Linked DNA regions of Homo sapiens: region 1 is linked to region 2. The links come from fine-mapping of genetic effects on gene expression. A gene starts in region 2. The other region holds a variant in brackets. All regions are shown on one strand. Distances are from middle to middle.

Region 1 (9,010 bases), 91 kb before region 2:
GAGTATTAAAGAAAAAGAAGAAATCTCTATTTCAGAGTTGTGTTGGATTTTGAAAAGAAAAAGATTGAATGAATGTACCCTGTGAAATGAGATTTTTTATTTGGCTAGGTGCAGCAGCTCATGCCTATAATCCCAGAAGTTTTGAGAGGCCAAGGCTCAAGGACTGCTTGAACTCAGGAGTTCAAACCAGGCTGGGCAAAAAGTGAGACCATAACTTTTTAAAAAAGCAAAAATTTTAAACATTAGCTGGGTGCAGTAGTGTGCGCCTGTAGTCCCAGATACTCAGAGGGCTGAGGTGGGAGGATCACTTGAGCCCAGGAGGTCAAGGCTGCAGTAAGCTGTGACTGCGCCACTGCACTGTAGTCTGGGCGACAGAGTAAGAGACCCTGTGTCAAATACATACATATACACACACACACACACACACACACACTTTTTTTTTTTAGAGAAAGGAAATACTACCACCAAAATTAAAGACACTCAAAAGTAAAACCAGATGGCCTATTTACAATAACTACCTACCACTAAACCATGACTTAAAAACACAACCCACTTATTTTTTCCCCTAAAAGAGCTCACCTTCAAATATCAGTGTCCAATTCACTTAAAAAATGATAAATTGGTCAATTTTCTTTCAAATTTTTTAAATTTTTGTGGGTAAATTCAGTTCTTGATTTAAAATTTTTATCAGAAGATTAACTTCTATTAATAGATTAGAAAATTCCATTACATCCTATAATAATAAAGCATGTAATTTCATAGAATATAGTCTTTCTTAAATACTAACCCTTATTAACAGGTCCCATTACTTTCAATAGTTTGGAGAAAATCACTGCACATTTGAAGTATGTTTATATGGGTCTATTACCGTTTCCTAAAAGATGTTTTATTTTCCTTCTTTAAGAGACCTGTGTTAATTAGCTTGCAAGTTTTAGTGAGGAAGGTTAGAAAATTTCTGAAGTCAACTGAATAGATACCATTAAACACACACATAAAAAAATGACAGTATGATTATACCTCCTGAATTACATTATGAATGAGATGCTTACATGTTTTCACCGCAAAATGACTGGGTGTATTTTCTCTGATGATGCAATCTGTGAAAATGTATGACAAAATCAAAATCTAACTGTGATTTTCAAAATACAGTGGGAAAGTGTATTGTATACCTCTCACATCCAACAATATTTAAGTAAAAGTGATGGGCACAAGCACCTCATATTCATTTTAGTTTTGATGCTTTGACAAATAAATCATTTACAGAGTTTCTCTGCTTCTTGTCACAACTACAAAGTGTCACAGATAATTCTGAATCTCAGAAACGCAAATCTATAAATAACCAACTACTTTAATCACAGTAAATGCAATTGAAGTAGATGGTTGCTTACATATACCCTAAAACCCAAAAATCTATTACTCAGAGGCAAATTTATATTCCTTAAATTTACTGGTTGATCCCTTTATTAGACAAGATATATAGAGCCCATACCTTCTAGAAGCAAAAAATGGAAAGTAACATTTCATTCATATAACATCCAAATTGAAAAAGATCATTACTAGGCACAAGCCTACAGGGCAATTAAAAGAATTTTCTTACCCAGGTGGCATGCCTGGCATAACTGGTGGCATTCCTGGCATCAGAGGAGGAACACCTGGCATTAATGGAGGTATGCCTACAAGCAAGAATTTCAATCAAAATAATAACAAATATTAAAGAGTTAGAGGGAAGAAAGTAATACTTCGATACAATATCAATAATGTCCTAAAAATGTTAGATTTTAAGCAATCCTATGTGCTACCTGGAGGCATTCCTGGTGCTCCTGGTACTGGTGGCAGTCCTGGCTGTGCCATTGGAGGAATATAACCTTGCTGAGGTTGAACAGGCTGTGGCTGAAATGAAGTTGAGGCTGCAGAGTCGTCATCATCATATTCATCAGAATCATCTTGTTGCTTCTTTTTTTGACTTTCTGTTAAAAAAAAAAAATTATTTCCATAGAGTAAAAACTAAGAAAGTTTATTTACAACATTCAATATTTAAAAATACATATATGGGTAAAATTACTTCATGAGATTTTTCTTCCCCAAAAATTCAATTAATACTGCTCTATGTTCTTCAAATGTGTTTTCGCCCTATATTAAACAAGATTAACGTTCTTTCCCTGTCCTATGAAAGGTAAAATGATTATCCTAAATCAGTATTTTTTCTTTTAAATTTTTAGTAAAGTCTTGCTCTGCGATGCAGGCTGTACAGCAGTGGCACGACTGCAGCTCACTGCACTCTCAAACTCCTGGGCTGAAGCGATCCTCCCGCCACAGTCTCCCAAGTAGCTGGGACTGCAGACACATGCCACCACACTGGGCTTTTTTTTTTTTTTTTTGGGGGGGGGGTAAAGGTGAGGTCTTGAACTTTTGGCCTCAAGTGATCCTACGGCCTCAGCTACCTAAAGCACTGAAATTATAGGAGTCCTTCATTTTCATATGCCTTAACACTTGCTAATTCTATTTGGAATTCAATTATGAATAATAATATAAGAAAATGGAATGATCCAAATGGTACTGCATATATACAAATCAAGTATGTCTTCAAAAACAGAGCTCAAATTTTAAATTCCAAATAAATCTATCATCTACCATTCAATTTTATCTATCTATCAAGTGATCAATCAATCGATTTATCTAAATAGGATCTCACTCTGTTGCCCAGACTGGAGAATTCACAGCTCACTGAAGCCTCAACCCCTTGGGCTCAAGAGATCCTCCCACCTCAGCTTAGACTATAGGCATGTGCCACCACACCCGGCTAATTTTTGTATTTTTTTTTTGTAAAGACAGGGTGTCATTCTCTATTGCCTAGGTTGGTCTCCCAATTTCTGGGCTCAAGCAATTTTCCTGCACTGCCTGCCCATAGTGCTGGGATTACAGGTGTGAGCCACTCCAACTACCCTACCATTAAATTTATAATTGAAAATACTAACTCTGGGCTTAAGTGAGGCTGAAAAAAGAATATTATCACAAGGGGAGAGAGATGGTGGCTCACACCTGTAATCCCAGCACTTAGGGAGGCCTCAGCAGGTAGATTGCTTGAGGTCAGGAGTTTGAGACCAGCCTGACCAACATGGTGAAACCCCGTTTCTACTAAAAAATATAAAAACTAGGCCAGGTGTGGTGACTCACATCTGTAATCCCAGCACTTTGGGAGGCCGAGGCGGGCAGATCACGAGGTCAGGAGTTCAAGACCAGCCTGACCAACATGGTGAAACCCTGTCTCTACTAAAAACACAAAAATTAGCCAGGTGTGGTGGCACACACCTCTAATCCCAGCTACTCCGAAGGCTGAGGCAGGAGAATTGCTTGAACCTGGGAAGCGGAGGTTGTGGTAAGCCGAGATCGCACCTCTGCACTCCAGCCTGGGCAACAGAGTGAGACTCCATCTCAAAACAAAAACAAAAACAAACAAAAATCAGCTGGGTGTGGTGGCTTGCGCCTGTAATCCCAGCACTTTGCGAGGCAAAAGTGGGCAAATCACCACTTAGGGTCTGGAGTTCGAGACCAGCCTGACCAACATGGTAAAACCCCGTATCTACTAAAAACACAAAAACTAGCCGGGCGTGGTAGTGCATGCCTGTAGTGCCAGCTACTCAGGAGGCCAAGTCAAGAGAATGGCTTGAACCTGGGAAGCAGAGGTTGCAGTGCAATGAGCCGAGATCATGCTACTGCACTCCAGCCTGGCAACAGAGCAAGACTCCACCTCAAAAAAGAAAAAAACAAACAAACAATCACTTAAACCCCGGAGGCAGAAGATGCAGAGAGCCCAGATCACACCACTGTACTCCAGCCTCGGCTGGACAGAGTAAGCCTCTGTCTCAAAAAAAAAAAAATTAAAAAAAATAAATAAATAAAATAAAACTTATCCCAATATTTACCTTGTGTTTTCTGTTCAAGAAGTCGTCGTCTTTCATCCATGTCTTTTTCTGGAATACCTTCCATACCATATATTTCCAACTCTATGTCTGTTCTTCCAGGTATTGCATTTGGTACGGCATCTATTGTTTCTTTATGTACCTAACAACAACAATTTCCATTAGATAAAAGTCTTTTTTAAGAATAATTCCAAGTTAATCAAAGACTGCTTAGTATAAAGAATAAATGTTCTATAGTGAGGCCATGTAGAGCCAATTCCCAGTTTTGCCATTCACTAGCTCTGTGACATTAAGCATGTCAGTGAACTTCTAAGCCTCAGTTTACTTCACCTATATAATAGCTAACTTCTAGAGTTGTTTTTAGGATTAAATACTGTATATAAAAAACACTTGGCGAGATGTCTAACATACAGTAAGCATTCAATAAACATTCTTTCAAGTTTACCATATAATCTTGATTACTTCAATTATTAGCAGTAACTAGTAGTCCTATCCAAATCAGGGATGTTTCAAGTGTGAATTAAGTAAAGATTATGAAACAGCCTCATATTAAGAATTAGAATATAGCCAGGCGAGGTGGCTCACATCTGTAATCCCAGCACTTGGGAGGCCAAGACGGGTGGATCACCTGAGGTCAGGAGTTTGAGACCAGCCTGGCCAACGTGGCAAAACCCTGTCCCGACTAAAAATACAAAAAATTAGTCGGGTGTGGTGGGGTCTGCCTGTAATCCCAGCTACT[G/C]GGGAGGCTGAGGAGGCAGAATCACTTGAAGTGAGCAGAGGTCACACCACTGCAATCCAGCCTGCGTGAGAGGGAGAGTCCCTCAAAAAAAACAAAAAAAAAATTAGCAGGGCGTGGTGGTGCACACCCATAATCCCAGTCACTCGACAGGCTGAGGCATGAGAATCACTTGAACCTGGGAGGCAGAGGTTGCAGTGAGCACTCCAGCCTGGGCAGATACTGAGAGACTGTCTCCAAAAAAAATAAATAAAAAATAAAAAGTCAGGTGGGGCGGCTCACGCCTGTAATCCCAGCACTTTGGGAGGCCGAGGCGGGCGGATCACGAGGTCAAGAGTTCGAGACCAGCCTGACCAACATGGTGAAACCCCATCTCTACTAAAAATACAAAAATTAGCCGGGCATGGTGGCACGTGCCTGTAATCCCAGCTACTCAGGAGGCTGAGGCAGAAGAATCGCTTGAACACGGGAGGCAGAGGTTACAGTGAGCCGAGACCGTGCCACGGCACTCTAGCCTGGGCAAGAGAGCGAGATTCTGTCTCAAAAAAAAAAAAAAATAATAATAATAATAATAATAATAATAATAATAATAATAATTAGAATAGCAAATTTTCTAAGTATAGATCTTGAGACAAGCCTCTGGTTACAAACTAGAAAAGTTACATTTGCAATCAGTATCACTTGTAACTAATGAGTTACGTGAGGCATTTTACTTTTTTTTTTTTTTAAGACAGGGTCTCACTCTGCCACCCAAGCAGGAGTACAGTGCCATTATCTCAGTTCACTGCAACCTCCGCCTCCCAAGCTCAAGCCACCCTCCCACCTCAGCCTCCCAAGTAACTGGGACTACAGGTGCGTGCCGCCATGCCTGGCTAATTTTTGTATTTTCTGTGGCGAGGTAGTTTTGTTATGTTCCCCAGGCTGCTCTCAAACTCCTGAACTCAAGGGATCCACCCACCTCAGTGTCCTAAAGTGCTGGGTTACAGAGGTGAGCCACCATGCCCAGCCCTGAGGCACTTTAACATGTTTATTGCAACACACTGAAAATCTGGGATTTTTTTTCATTATATTGTTTTGCTACATAAGCGCTTCTAATCTTCAGATCTGGGTAACTTTTGCCAATAATGTAATATCCCTGCCAGTCTTGGTTTCTTCAGCAAGCCATTTTGCTGAAGTAGATGTCAAAGTATTTTGCCTAGACTATCAAGCCTTTCTGGAAATGCTAATGCATGCTCAAGTTTGAGAAGCACTCATTTAGGCTAATGACTTAGATATATTTGCCCAAATAATACTCATTTTTTCTTTCCTCCTAAGACATTTTCATGTACGAACAGAAAAGTAACTACAAAAAGCTAAGTATTTTCTTCTTAGCAATGTATCTCACTTAAAGATTTGAAACTGGGGCATGCAAATCAAACTCAGAAATTATCTTAATATCTGATTGTTAAAAGCTATTCCTTATATTGCAATTAAAATATTTATGGATAAAGCGGCTTAACAAGTGACTTAATTGCCGTTTCCTAAGGTTTTTTGGAATATTTTGCTATTCTTAATAAAGAGATGATGCAACAGGCATTCTATAAACAATTACATTCACATACACACTAATCTTCACTACATTTTTGAGAAGGGCAACAATTAAAGGTGTATCTATTATGGTACAGCCAGAATTAGATTTCTTGGGACCCTGCCAAGCAAAGTCATAGCGTCTTGGTTGAAAAGACAGGAGCAAGCACTGATGAGAAACTGCAGGGAACCACCTAACTTACTAATAATGTCTTAGGGTTTATCATCTATAAAATTGGTATGATTTAACTGCCAGGTCTATCTCACAGGTTGCTGTGAAAATAGGACTAAATAAAGGCACTCAGACAATAATGTTACTAAGTTTCTCAACTAACCTTGAAGCTTCCACTCCACTTCTCTGCTCTTCATAAAGTGCAACTCCCTAAGAATGCCTTCGCTTCCTCTCCCTGTCTCTTCAAAGCACCGTAATCACACTTCACCCTCACCACTCTTGGAAATCGCTCTTTGTCAAGTCACCAATGACCTTATTAACCCAGTCTCAGTACTCTTACTGAACCAGCATTTGACTCAGTTAAATAACTCACTCCTTGAAACACGTCATTGACTTCCAGGGCACTACTCTTGGTTTTCCTACCTTTCATCTCCTTAGACGATTCCTTTTAATCTCCTGACCTTCAAATGTTGGAAGTGGCCTAGAGCAGAGAGCACCTAATTTCCAACCACACTACAGTCCTTACAAAGGACATCTGGTAGCGCGGCTTAAACTAGCCACCCTTACATTGTATGCGTCCAAATTTCTATCTCCTGTTTTAATTTCTATGAACTCCTGACTTGTACATCAAACTGCTTCGGTAACCTTTTCATCTGGATATTTAATAGACCTCAAACATACCTACACTCAAAATTAACACAGGACTCCCTTATTCTCATTCTTAAGCCTATTATCCCTGTAGCTTTTCACATCTCGTCATATGCTCAAAATAAACATTTTTGAGACAGGGTTTCACTCTTGTAGCCCAAGTTGGAGCTGAGTAGTGCTATCACGGCTCACTGCAGTCTCGTCCTCCCCAGCTCAAGCGATCCTCCTGCCTCAGCCTCCTGAGTAGCTGGGACACAGGCACGTGCCACCATGCCCAACTTTGCATTTTTTGTAGAGACAGGGTCTCATTATATTGCCCAGGCTAGTCTCGAACTATTAGGATCAAGTGATTAGTCCATCTCGGCCTACCAAAGTGCTGATTACAGGCGTGAGCCACCGCACCTAGCCAGACCATCTTGAGATCAACATCTTGAGACCACCCTTAACTCCTCACTTTTTCTTATACCCCATATCTAACCTATCAAACTCTGGTCTCTGTCACCATCTCCTCTTGTCTGGAATATTCTAAGTCTTCTAAAGTGGTCTCACCGTACTCTGCACTTTACTTTCAACCCTGCAGCCAGAAAAATCCTTTTAAAAAGTCTTACAGGCTGGGCGCAGTGGCTCACGCCTGTAATCCCAGCACTTTGGGAGGCCAAGGAAGGTGGATCAGGAGGTCAGGAGTTCAAGACCAGCCTGGCCAAGATGGTGAAACCCCATCTGTACTAAAAATACAAAACAATTAGCTAGGCACAATGGCAGGCGTCTGTAATCCCAGCTACTCGAGAGGCTGAGGCAGGAGAATTGCTTGAACCCGGAGGGCAGAGGCTGCGGTGAGCCGAGATCACGCCCACTGCACTCCAGCCTGGACGAAAGAGACTCCGTCTCAAGAAAAAAAAAAAAGTCTAATAGAGGCCAGCTGCAGTGACTTATGCCTGTAATCCCAGCACTTTGGGAGGCCAAAGTAGATGGGATCACTTGAGGCCAGGAGTTCAAGACCACCCTGGCCAACGTGGTGAAGCCCCATCTCTACTAAAAATACAACTCAGGCAGGCACGGTGGTGCATGCCTGTAATCCTAGCTATTTGGAAGGCTGATGCACAAGAATCACTTAAGCCCAGGAGGCGGAGGCTGCAGTGAGCACAAGACAGAGCAAAACTCCGTTTCAAAATAAAACAAAAAAAAAACTGACAGAGCATACATCTCTATTTAAACCCCTATTTCATTCAGAATTAAAGAAAATGGCCGGGCTCAGTGGCTCACAACTGTAATTCCAGCACTTTGGGAGGCCGAGTGGGAGAATCGATTGATCCTGGGAGTTGGGCGACCAGCCTGTGCAACATAGTGAGACCCTGTCTCTACAAAAATAAAATTTTAAAAATAGCCAGGTATGGTGGTACACAATTGTTGTCCCAGGTACTCAGGAGGCTAAGGTGGAAGGATCATTTGAGTAAGGGAGTTCAAAGTTGCGGTGAGCTATGATCTGCACTCCAGCCTGGACAACAGAATGAGACCCTGTCAATCAATCAAAACAAAATGTTCTTATCCACACTACCCAATATAAGTTAGCTACTTGACAGAGAAACTGAGCATTTAGATATTTATATCATTTTAAATAGCCACATGTAACTAATGGCTGCAACAGTGAACAGCTGTGAGTCTAACATGTAGTAGGTTCTCTAACAATTTTTTTTTTTTTTTTTTTTTTTTTGGAGACAGAGTCTCTGTCACCCAGGCTGGAGTGCAGTGGCACAAACTCAGCTCACCGCAAACTCTGCCTCCCGGGTTCAAGTGATTCTCCTGTCTCAGCACCCGCCTCGCGCCCCCCGCCCCCAGCCCTCCCCCCGCCCCCGTAGCCAGGACTACATGTGCCTGCCACCATGCCCAGCTAATTTTTGGTATTTGTAGAGATGGGGTTTCACCACGTTGGTCAGGCTGGTCTTGAAACCCTGACCTCAGGTGATCCAC
Region 2 (9,010 bases):
GTACGAAAACTATCTCAGGTCTGAATCAACAGAAGGAATCAGGAAGGAAAAGCTCAACAGATTCCACAGAAAATAAGACTTTTTTCTTTAACAAATTTTTTTTTAAACTTTTAAAAAACGGAGGTGGGGTCTCGCTATGTTGCCCAGGCTGGTCTTTAACTCCTGGGCTCAAGCGATCTGCCCACCTTGGCTTCCCAAAGTGTTGGGATTACAGGTGTGAGCACCCAGTCAGAAAAATAAAACATCTTTACTACGATATTATACTATAACAACAGACTAATATTTATGGTAAATTTTAAATCTACTTAAATATTTAGGAAAACCATCAAGATCTCCAAAATATGAAAAGACGATTCCCTCAAGAAGAAGTTTGAACAGGACATGAACACATGGAACATACCGAGTTGAACTGATGACCCTCAGGTCTCCCACCTGCTGCAACTTCTGGGACCCATGGGGAAGAATCGGGGGAGTGAGGGTGCGTGGCATGGATTGGCCCTGCTAACACTCCTGCTTGAGTGGGCCAGATGCCACAATGCCAGGGAGGGGGATGCAGAAGCTTCCATGGGACTGGGGTCACCTGCTTTCATCACCTCCAGTCCCCACAAAAGGTATCCTGGCCATTTAGTTCGACGGTGACCATATAGGACCAACAAGACCAACACCATGGCTTCTAGCCCTTGGGGTCCAGTTGGCGTCATGCTAGATCAAGGCTACTCCACATGCTGAAGAACCAGACATTATGGAGGGACTGGTCTAATCCATCCCTAACACCTGGAAAACAGACCCTAGCAGATCCCAGTTTGAAATTGGGCTACCACTGGTGTCTGCTTGACCCAAGAAGGGAGGGAGGAGATACTTGACTGGTTCTAGCCACCCATGCCATTGATCTCTGGAAGGCGAACTCCAGAGTCACTTGTGCTTACAGGGACTCTGAGAGGTGTCATGTCCCATCCATGACTGCAGTTTGATCTATCAGGGTTGCTTGCTTCTTTTTTTTTTTTTTTTTTTTTTTTTGAGAAAGGGTCTCACTTTTTGGGAGGCCATCCTCCTGTCTCAGCCTCCCAAAATGCTGGGATTACCGGCGTTAGCCACTGTGCCTGGCCTAATTTCTTTCCTAGAATTAATTCTGGGCAGGCCTCCCAGAAGCAGGGGTATGCTCTTTGTGACACCCAGGACCCAGGACCTACCTTCAGTTGGAAAAATTCGATTTAATAGACCACTAGCTACTATTAGGTGCTACACATTCTTTCTGCTCCCTTGAGTTCCAAAATCTTCCTACTAAAAGCTCTCTTCCTTTCACCCAAATGGTTTGTTTTAAAATGTACACATACACACAGGGACTGGCAAAGGAAATTAATCAAATGAAAAAGATAGACACAGACAGAGAAAAAAAAAGAATGATACACTTTGTTCTAGGTTCTGATTCTAAATCTGGCAGGAGGTGTGAAGGGCTGGCAGCTTGGTGGTAGTGGTGGCAGTGGCGCAGCGGGCTCCCTCCTGCCTTGGGGCATCAGGCCAGCAGCTGCTGTACTCTTAGGAGCCAGAGGGAGAGATGCTCTACCCGTCAGGACAGGAGCCAGTGCATGCTTTGAACTTCAAACCACAGCCAGACCTCGTGGTTAATGTGGATGATCACCCCAAATCCTCACCCCAGGCCTTTCGCGCTGCAATTCCGTGTCATCACGCCCACTCCGGCATCTGCAACCGGCTGGCTCCTCTAACTGAACTTGTCTCAAACCAAAGTTGTCATTTTTGCCAAACGTCTCTCCTCACTCCAACTTGTTTTTTGTTTTTGTTTTGAGACAGGGTCCCACTCTGTCACTCAGGTTGGAGTGCAGTAGCACGATCGTGGCTCACTGCAGCCTCAACTTCCTGGGCTCAGGCAATCCTCCTGCCTCAGTCTCTCATGTAGCTGGAACCACAGGAGTGTGCTACCATGCCTGGCTGATTTTTTAATTTTTTGTAGAGATGAGGTCTCACTTTGTTGGCGAGGCTGGTCTTGAACTACTGGGTTCAAGTGATCCTCCCGCCTTAGCCTCCCAAAGTGTTGGGATTACAAGCGTGAGTCACCACACCTGGCCCCACTCCAACTTCTTTCCCTCCTAGGTTCAGAATCTCAAAGTTAGATATGTGGTTCCCCTCACCTACGGTCTATTAAGATCTTCCAATTCTTCCATCACCATGTCCCTCTTCCCGTCCATCCTCACTGTCACCTTCTTGCCTCTGTTCAGTGCTGCAGCTCCTGCCTAGCTTCCCTCATCCCCGTAGCCCATTCACTCCTTATCCCCTAAGACACTGGAGCTTTCCCAAGCCTGGCTTGGATCACATAACAACCCTGCTAAAAAACTTTCTAAGGCTTCCCCTGCCTACAACGAAGTCCTGGTTCAAGCTAATTTTTCAGCTTTATCTCCTTCTCCTACCCAACACATTCCCTCTGGCCCACTCACACCAATTTCTTAAAGTTGCACAAACTTCATGGCACAATCATTCTCACCCCAGGACTATAGCACTCAACTATCCTCCAACATGGGGCAAAGAGGGAGAAGGAAGCACATAACAGCACCCACCACGAATGCTAAGAGGAGAACCATTTCCTTGCTGAAGGTCAAATGTCCATCTCCAGGTTCAAAAGCCAATACTTGGCACCCCCAACTCCATGCCCTACACCTGGACTCCAGGCATTGCGAAGAATCACACACAATTTCCCCTCTGTAACCTCCCAGCACTCCCTCATCCCTATGACAGAATTAAAGACATTGAATTAGACTTCAAAAGAGTCCATACTGTGAGTCAGCCCCCAAGGATGGCAGAGATTTGACTTCAGCGGTGGCCATGGACCCTCCATAGTGGAGGTAGAAACGGAGAGGGATTGTCAGCCCAAGCCCTTCCCCCACCTCTCCAGCCCCCTACTGCAATCCCCTGGCATATGGAGGATTTCCCAGGCATTCAATATATAACGTCCAATTTCTACATGGTGTAAACCCGGCTCTGGTGCAGCAGAGTAGGGAGGAGGCAGGAGGGAGATCCTCTCAGGGGAGCCCATCTCTTCCTCCTGATACCTGGAGAGCAGTGTCGTTCAGCCCTAGAGATGCACAAAGCCACACCCCCACCCCACGTCACCATCTCAGGAGCGCGGAGCTAGGGAAGCCCACGCAAGCAGGGAGACTGAGACCGATTTCAGGGAGGGCTGGAAGGAAATGGGGGGTTAACTGCTCACATACCTGATCAAACAGGACTTTCCAGTGCTGGCAGAGAGGGAGGCCATGCAGGAGAGGAAGAAGAGGAGAGAAAGAAAGACACACTTATCACCAAGGTCTCTGTAGTCCTCGGATGTTTCTGACATAGCCTCCCAGCGGCTGCCCAGGAGTCATGACCAGGCTCAGGGACTGGCCACAGGAGAGCAGGGGAAGTCTGGGAGGAGCTCCCCAATGAGTCCACACTGAGCAGAGGGAGGAAACTCACAGTAAGGGATGGGGTGGGGGCGGGGGCGGCAAGGTGGGTGTTGCTGGTTCTGGAACTGGCAGAACAAGTGATTCTCAACAATTACTAAATAAAGGCGTCCAAATATGTCCAAGCGCCTCTAATAATTTCTGCTGCCTAAAGCTTATGTCCACAGCTACTCCCAGGCCTGGGAGAGCATGGCCAGGTGCAATTCCATCAGACCCCGGCGCAATGAGTCTCACCTGCTGGGAGCTAGAGCCCCCCCCTCCCCCCCCAGGAGAACTCACCTCTGCATAAACACTAACATTTTGCCTGCAGTTTTTTGTTTGTTTGTTCGTTTTTTGTTTTTTTGCGGGGAAGGGGGGGTGGTGAATGCCGAATGCGGTGAAGCCCACCCATTCTCTTCCAAGGCTGAGTCTAAGTGGTGACTACATCAGATTCTGCCAGGGGTTTAGGGCCAGAAGGAAGTGATAGATTTAACCGCAGACGCCAAAGAGAGAAGATCGTAAACTACCCCCCAACCCCATTCAGACTTTCCCGCTTTCGTTGTGTGGGTTGGGGGCCTGGTTTCACTTCCATCTCCCCACCCTGAGGGAGGAGTGGGCAGGGCAGGGTGTCTGCCCGGTTTTTCACCCCTATGTGTAGGTTAGCCCCGGGAGGTTAACCCAAGAAACTCCAGTTCCCAGGGCTTCGCAGGGCCGGCCCGCAGGACCGGAGGGATGGAGACCCGAGCAGCAGACGGCGGGGAAGCCCTCGGGGCAGCCCCTCCCTCTCCTCGCCCAGGGGACCGTCCCCTGGCACCGCCACGGTCTTGGACTCCCGGGCCTCCTTCTAGGAGCAAAGCCGCTCCCAGCACTCTTTGCCTCCCTGCTCCGGCCGGGGTCAGAGGCGGGGGCCGGCTTGAATTTCAATCAGTGTCGCGGCAAGGCAGGTGCCGGGCGGGAGCTAATCCGGGAGCGGAGGAAGGGGTCGCCAGGCCGGCTTGCATGGCCAGGGACGGGGACTCTGCGGCGTCCGCTCCTTCCCCAGCTCCGGGAGCTCGCAGGTCGCGGGCGTGAGGGGAGGGGGAGTCACCGCCGTGACGCGGCCGCCTCTGCGGGAAAACGCCGTGTCCCGGGCACTGCACCAGCGGCGGGGAGGGGGCTCCGGCGGTGACAGGTCCGCGGCGCAGTGGCGGTGCTGTGTCCCGCAGGGAAGCCGCGGGAACCAGAGCGGGGGAAGCGGTGCGCGCGCGTTTCGGGGAGACCGGTCCCTCCGCCCCCTCCTGCCCGCGGGGACCCGGCCAATCCGGGGCGCTCCCGCGTCACCCTGAAACCTCCAAGTTGCCCGGCGTGGGGCGAGACAGGGGCGGCTTTTCCCCCCGGCGCCCCCTAGAAAGTTTGCCGGGCGGGGAGGGGGCACTCACGTCCTCCGGCGCCGCGGGCAGCCGCTCCTCGGCCTCGGGTTCCAGCTCCTCGATGCGCTCCGCCTCGGCGCAGGCGGCCACCGCGGGGCCCGGGCTGGGGTGCTCGCCCATGGCCGAGACGGGGTCCGGGGGCGGCGGCGGCTGCGGGGCTCGTCCCGGGGCGCCGGGCTAACTTTGCGCCGCGGCGGCCGCGCCGCTCCAGGGGCTCAGTGCGCGCCGCGCCGCCTCCGCGCCCGCTCCGCAGCCCGCGCCCGCCCCCATGGCCCCGGTCCCCGCGCCGCCGCCGCCTCCTCGCGACCCCGGGACGCCCGGCCCCTCCGCCGCCAAACTTCACTGCGCTAGCTGCCCCGCCGGCCTCCGCCTCCGCCCCGGCCCTCGCGCCCGGCTCCGAGGCGAGGGCGCCCTTGGGCCGGCCCCGGCCCCGCCGCTCCCCGCGCTCCCTTCCCGCTTCTCGCGGCCCCCGCTCTGCGCCCGAGTCTCCTCCTCCCCGCGGAGTCCTCGGGGGCGGCGCGCGGGCGGGGGCGGGGCTGCTCGCGGGGAACGCCGGCCCCCGCCCCGCACCCCACCCCGGGCGCCGCCACCCGGGCCCAGTCGGTCAGAGCGGCGCGGCCCGGGAGCGGGAGGGCTGCGGCGGGGCTGGCGAGGAAGTGGTGGCGCTGCCCGGGGCGGGGATGGGGACTGCGCCGTCCCCGGCCCGGTCACCACCGGCCTGCACTCCGGGCCCGGGCTTGGCTCTTCCATCGGCTTAACCATCACTTGGAGGTGGCAGATATGTGATGGAGACACTATGTTGGCGACGTCAGGGTTAACTAGGAGTGAATTGGGGGCGCGATGTTGTAAGGACGGGATTCCTGCCTCCCGCCCCATTATCCTTACGCCCTATTCACTGCGGTCTCAGATTCTGGGAGGTCTCGGGAGGCCCAGAAATGGGAGAAGTCAGATTGCGGGGTCGTGGGCCCCAAAGCCTAAATCTTGCCCTTCCTACACCCAGAGCTAAGTGACCATGCCCAGGCTTCATTTGACCACATGGACAAAGGTAAGCCCAGGGAAATGCCCCATCTGGGGAGAGGGACGGTAAAGAAACTAAAGCAATCAGAAAGGAAGTTAGCCAAAACGGAGTAGGGGATCTTTTAAAGAAAACAATCGATGCTGTTTCCCTGCAGGAAAGCGCCCCCAAGAGAGACCATCTCCCGAAGCAGAGGCTCTGGCTGTAAATGGTGCTAGTGGCCGGCCTGGCAGGGGCCAGCTCTCCCCAGAGGCTCAGGAGCTTCTCCAGGAGGCATCTCGCAGTCAGTCCCCAGCCCACACCAAGGCTGTGCCCTTCCACTCCTCTTGCTTTCCTCTTCCCACCACCCACTCACTCACTAGTCTTTGCCCTCTTCCTTCCTCTGGGAAACGGAACAGGCTCCTTTCCATTAGTGAGAGCTGCAACTAATGCAGTCATCTTCAGAAAGCAAAGACATAACCCCGTGCCCAGGATCCGAACTGCGACCATCACCCAGCAATGACTGCTCCCCTTAAACACCGAGAAGGGAATTCACTTGATTCTAATTAGGTGAGTTTGCTACAGACACCAATTTTCATCTCTGTTTCAGAAAGTGTGATCATTTCAACTATTTTTGTTTCTCACCACCCTCCTCCCCATCCCTACTCTACTAACAAGTCAAGATCCTGCCAAGATTTCCTTGTAAATAAAACTGTCTGCATGGGGTGTGATTTTGAAAACAGCCTTCAGGGGACAGAAGAGAGGCTGATTCCTTTGTGAAGAGGAGCCCAGAAGGACAAATGACCGCTGGGGCCCTGGGGTCTGTGTCGCTGCCTCCCGCATCCCAGGCTGTCATTTGCATGACCGGTATGGGTGTTGGCTCTGTTATACTTAGATCTCTGGGACTAGAGAAGTGGGCCAGGAAGTCTGGTTCCAGGGGAACTGGAAGGAGAAGGGCACAGAAAAGGGTTGGCCACTCTGCTGGGATGCCCAGCCACCCTGGACAGTGTTCTGATACCAGCTACCCAGGGAGCTGCCTCTTCATCAGCCCAGGGACAGCTCTTATCAACATATCCAACTCTGTCATCCCTTCGTGGGGAAGGGAGCTTAGCAGGCTCAGTTCTGTTCCTGAACATGTATTAAGCTCCTACTAAGTACCAATGACAGAGCTTTGAGAATACAGAGGTGGATAAGAACCAGACCCTGCCCTCCAGAAATGGATAATTGGGGGTGACAGTCACATTCAACACAAGGGTAAGTCCTGGATTCAAGGGAAGCCCAGAAGGTGTAGAACTCCAAAGGAGGGGGTCGCTGTGGGTCCAGGAAGGCTTCCCAAAGGATAAGCCTCCAGAACTAGGCAACATGGAAAAGGTGAAGGAGGTGTTCCAGGTAGAGGGAACAGCACGACCAGGCTTGTGGAGCAGCATCATATGGGAGGCAAACGACAAGCAGTTTGGCATGGCTGGAAACTGGAGCACGATGACCAATCTAAAGAGCCCAGCCTGGACGGGAAGGTTGTGAGGGGCTGTGAGTTTCATGGGAAAAGAGCTTGGACTTTACCTAAGGGCAATAGGGAGCCATTGAAGGATTGTGAGCAGTAGAGTAATATTTAAAAGATCCCTGGCCAGGCGCGGTGGCTCACGGCTGTAATCCCAGCACTTTGGGAGACCAAGGCGGGCGGATCACGAGGTCAGGAGATCGAGACCGTCCTGGCTAACACGTTGAAACCCTGTCTCTACTAAAAAAATACAAAAAATTAGCCGGGCGTGGTGGTGGGCGCCTGTAATCCCAGCTACTCGGGAGGCTAAGGCAGGAGAATCACTTGACCACAGGAAGCGGAGCTTGCAGTGAGCCGAGATCTGCCACTGCACTCCAGCCTGGGCGACAGAGTGAGACTCCGTCTCAAAACAAACAAAAAAGATCCCTTTGGCTGTAGTGTAGAGTCTAGACAGGAGGGAGGTTGGCCTGAGCAGAGGGCCATGAGAGGTGCTGTCCAAGGAAGAGGTCACAAGGGCGGCAGCAGTTAGAATAAAAGGGAGAGGGAAGATGGGAAACATCCAGAAGGCTATCTTGTTCCTCCTTCTGTCCCTAGGAACATTTACCCCGCCTTGGCAGGCTATGTTTCCAAAAGTCTCCTAAGAAGGAATTCCTGATCTCTCACCAGGATTCTTGCTTCACGGGGCAGCTTCTCTCACCTTGGCCCTTGCTGGGAGGTGATGGTGTCTGGACTTGGAGACTGTTAGGACAAGTTGTTACATCCATCATCCTCCATGAGCCTGAGGCCACCCTTTACCTGTTGTCCTCAATGTCACCTACGCCCAGCTGGTCAGACCACTCTGCCCCTCAGCTCCAGGCGAATCTGCAACCCACTCCCGAGCAGGCAGTAGGACATGGGGCCTGGGGTCCAGGCCTAGAAAGCTCCAGGGGATAGGAGTGGCTAGGCACCCTGACACCTTTTGTTCTACTCTCACCTGAGACAGCCTAAGGACTGGCATATTCTGTGGCATTTTGGGGGCAGAGGAGGGAGTAGGCATGGTGTCACTTTCACTGACCAGCTGCAGCAGGCAGGCACTCGTCGATGCCTGGAGGTGTGCCATGCAGAGGCCCCTCCCTGGGAGAACCTTTGGCGCTAATGAGAAGTGACACGGAACTGGGCCTATTGGCACTTCTTCCTTGCTCTTCATTTTGCAAGTGCGCTACACCATGGCCTCTTTTAAGGTTCCTAACAAGACACTTGAAGTCAACGCAGAGCAGGATGAAGGGCTGGGGAAGGGTGGATCAAACTCGGTTTAGAAGGGCAGGAGCATGATGTTGAGATGAGCCTTGAAAGGGGCAAGCTTGTGGTAGAGAACGTGGAAGGGTTTCTAGGTGGAGGGAACTGCTGCGGCAAAGACACAGAGATAGGAAAGCTGTTGACTGTGTTGGGAACCATGAAGTGGCTGAGCACAAAGTGAGGATGGCCGGGCAGGCGAGGAGCACTGTGTCGCCAGAGTCCCCGAGTGCCAGTCTGAGGAGGTTGGACCTCGCCCAGTGGGAGATAGAGAAGCGGTGATGGCTTCTAACTGGAGCAGCATTTTAGGAAGATTAAGTTGGCGACAGCTCAGCAGTGCCATTCAGCTCACACGTGCTGAGTGTCCATTATGTGCCAGACCCTGGCCGAGGTACTGATAGTACAA

Direction of the effects. Alleles are on the strand shown, and positions count from the first base shown. SD is a standard deviation of normalised expression in the study named.
For the expression in amygdala of the gene that starts at base 5,318 in region 2, allele G in region 1 goes with a higher level than allele C (moderate effect, 0.43 SD a copy in GTEx).

The links. PIP is the estimated chance that this variant, and not a neighbour inherited with it, causes the effect. A credible set is the group of variants that fine-mapping cannot tell apart.
Region 1: its variant is the best candidate, but not a certain one, in a credible set for the expression of RHBDL3 in amygdala (GTEx, PIP 0.69).

Annotation. Positions count from the first base shown.
Region 1 is chr17:32,353,555-32,362,564 of GRCh38, reverse strand. ZNF207 (zinc finger protein 207) reads right to left here. Exons shown (of 12, transcript NM_001098507.2): 3 at 3,924-4,062; 4 at 1,800-1,967; 5 at 1,598-1,673; 6 at 1,050-1,097. Among named protein-coding and RNA genes, the nearest start is that of ZNF207, 7.9 kb to the right of the region's middle. RefSeq lists a silencer at 4,688-4,888 and an enhancer at 7,824-8,325. The variant G/C (reference allele first, on the strand shown) is at 4,660.
Region 2 is chr17:32,262,140-32,271,149 of GRCh38, reverse strand. It overlaps RHBDL3 (rhomboid like 3), which reads right to left and starts at 5,318. Exons shown (of 9, transcript NM_138328.3): 1 at 4,850-5,318; 2 at 3,225-3,248. The coding sequence starts at 4,960. LOC105371731 (a long non-coding RNA gene) reads left to right here and starts at 5,699. Exons shown (of 3, transcript XR_934665.2): 1 at 5,699-5,885; 2 at 6,254-6,404.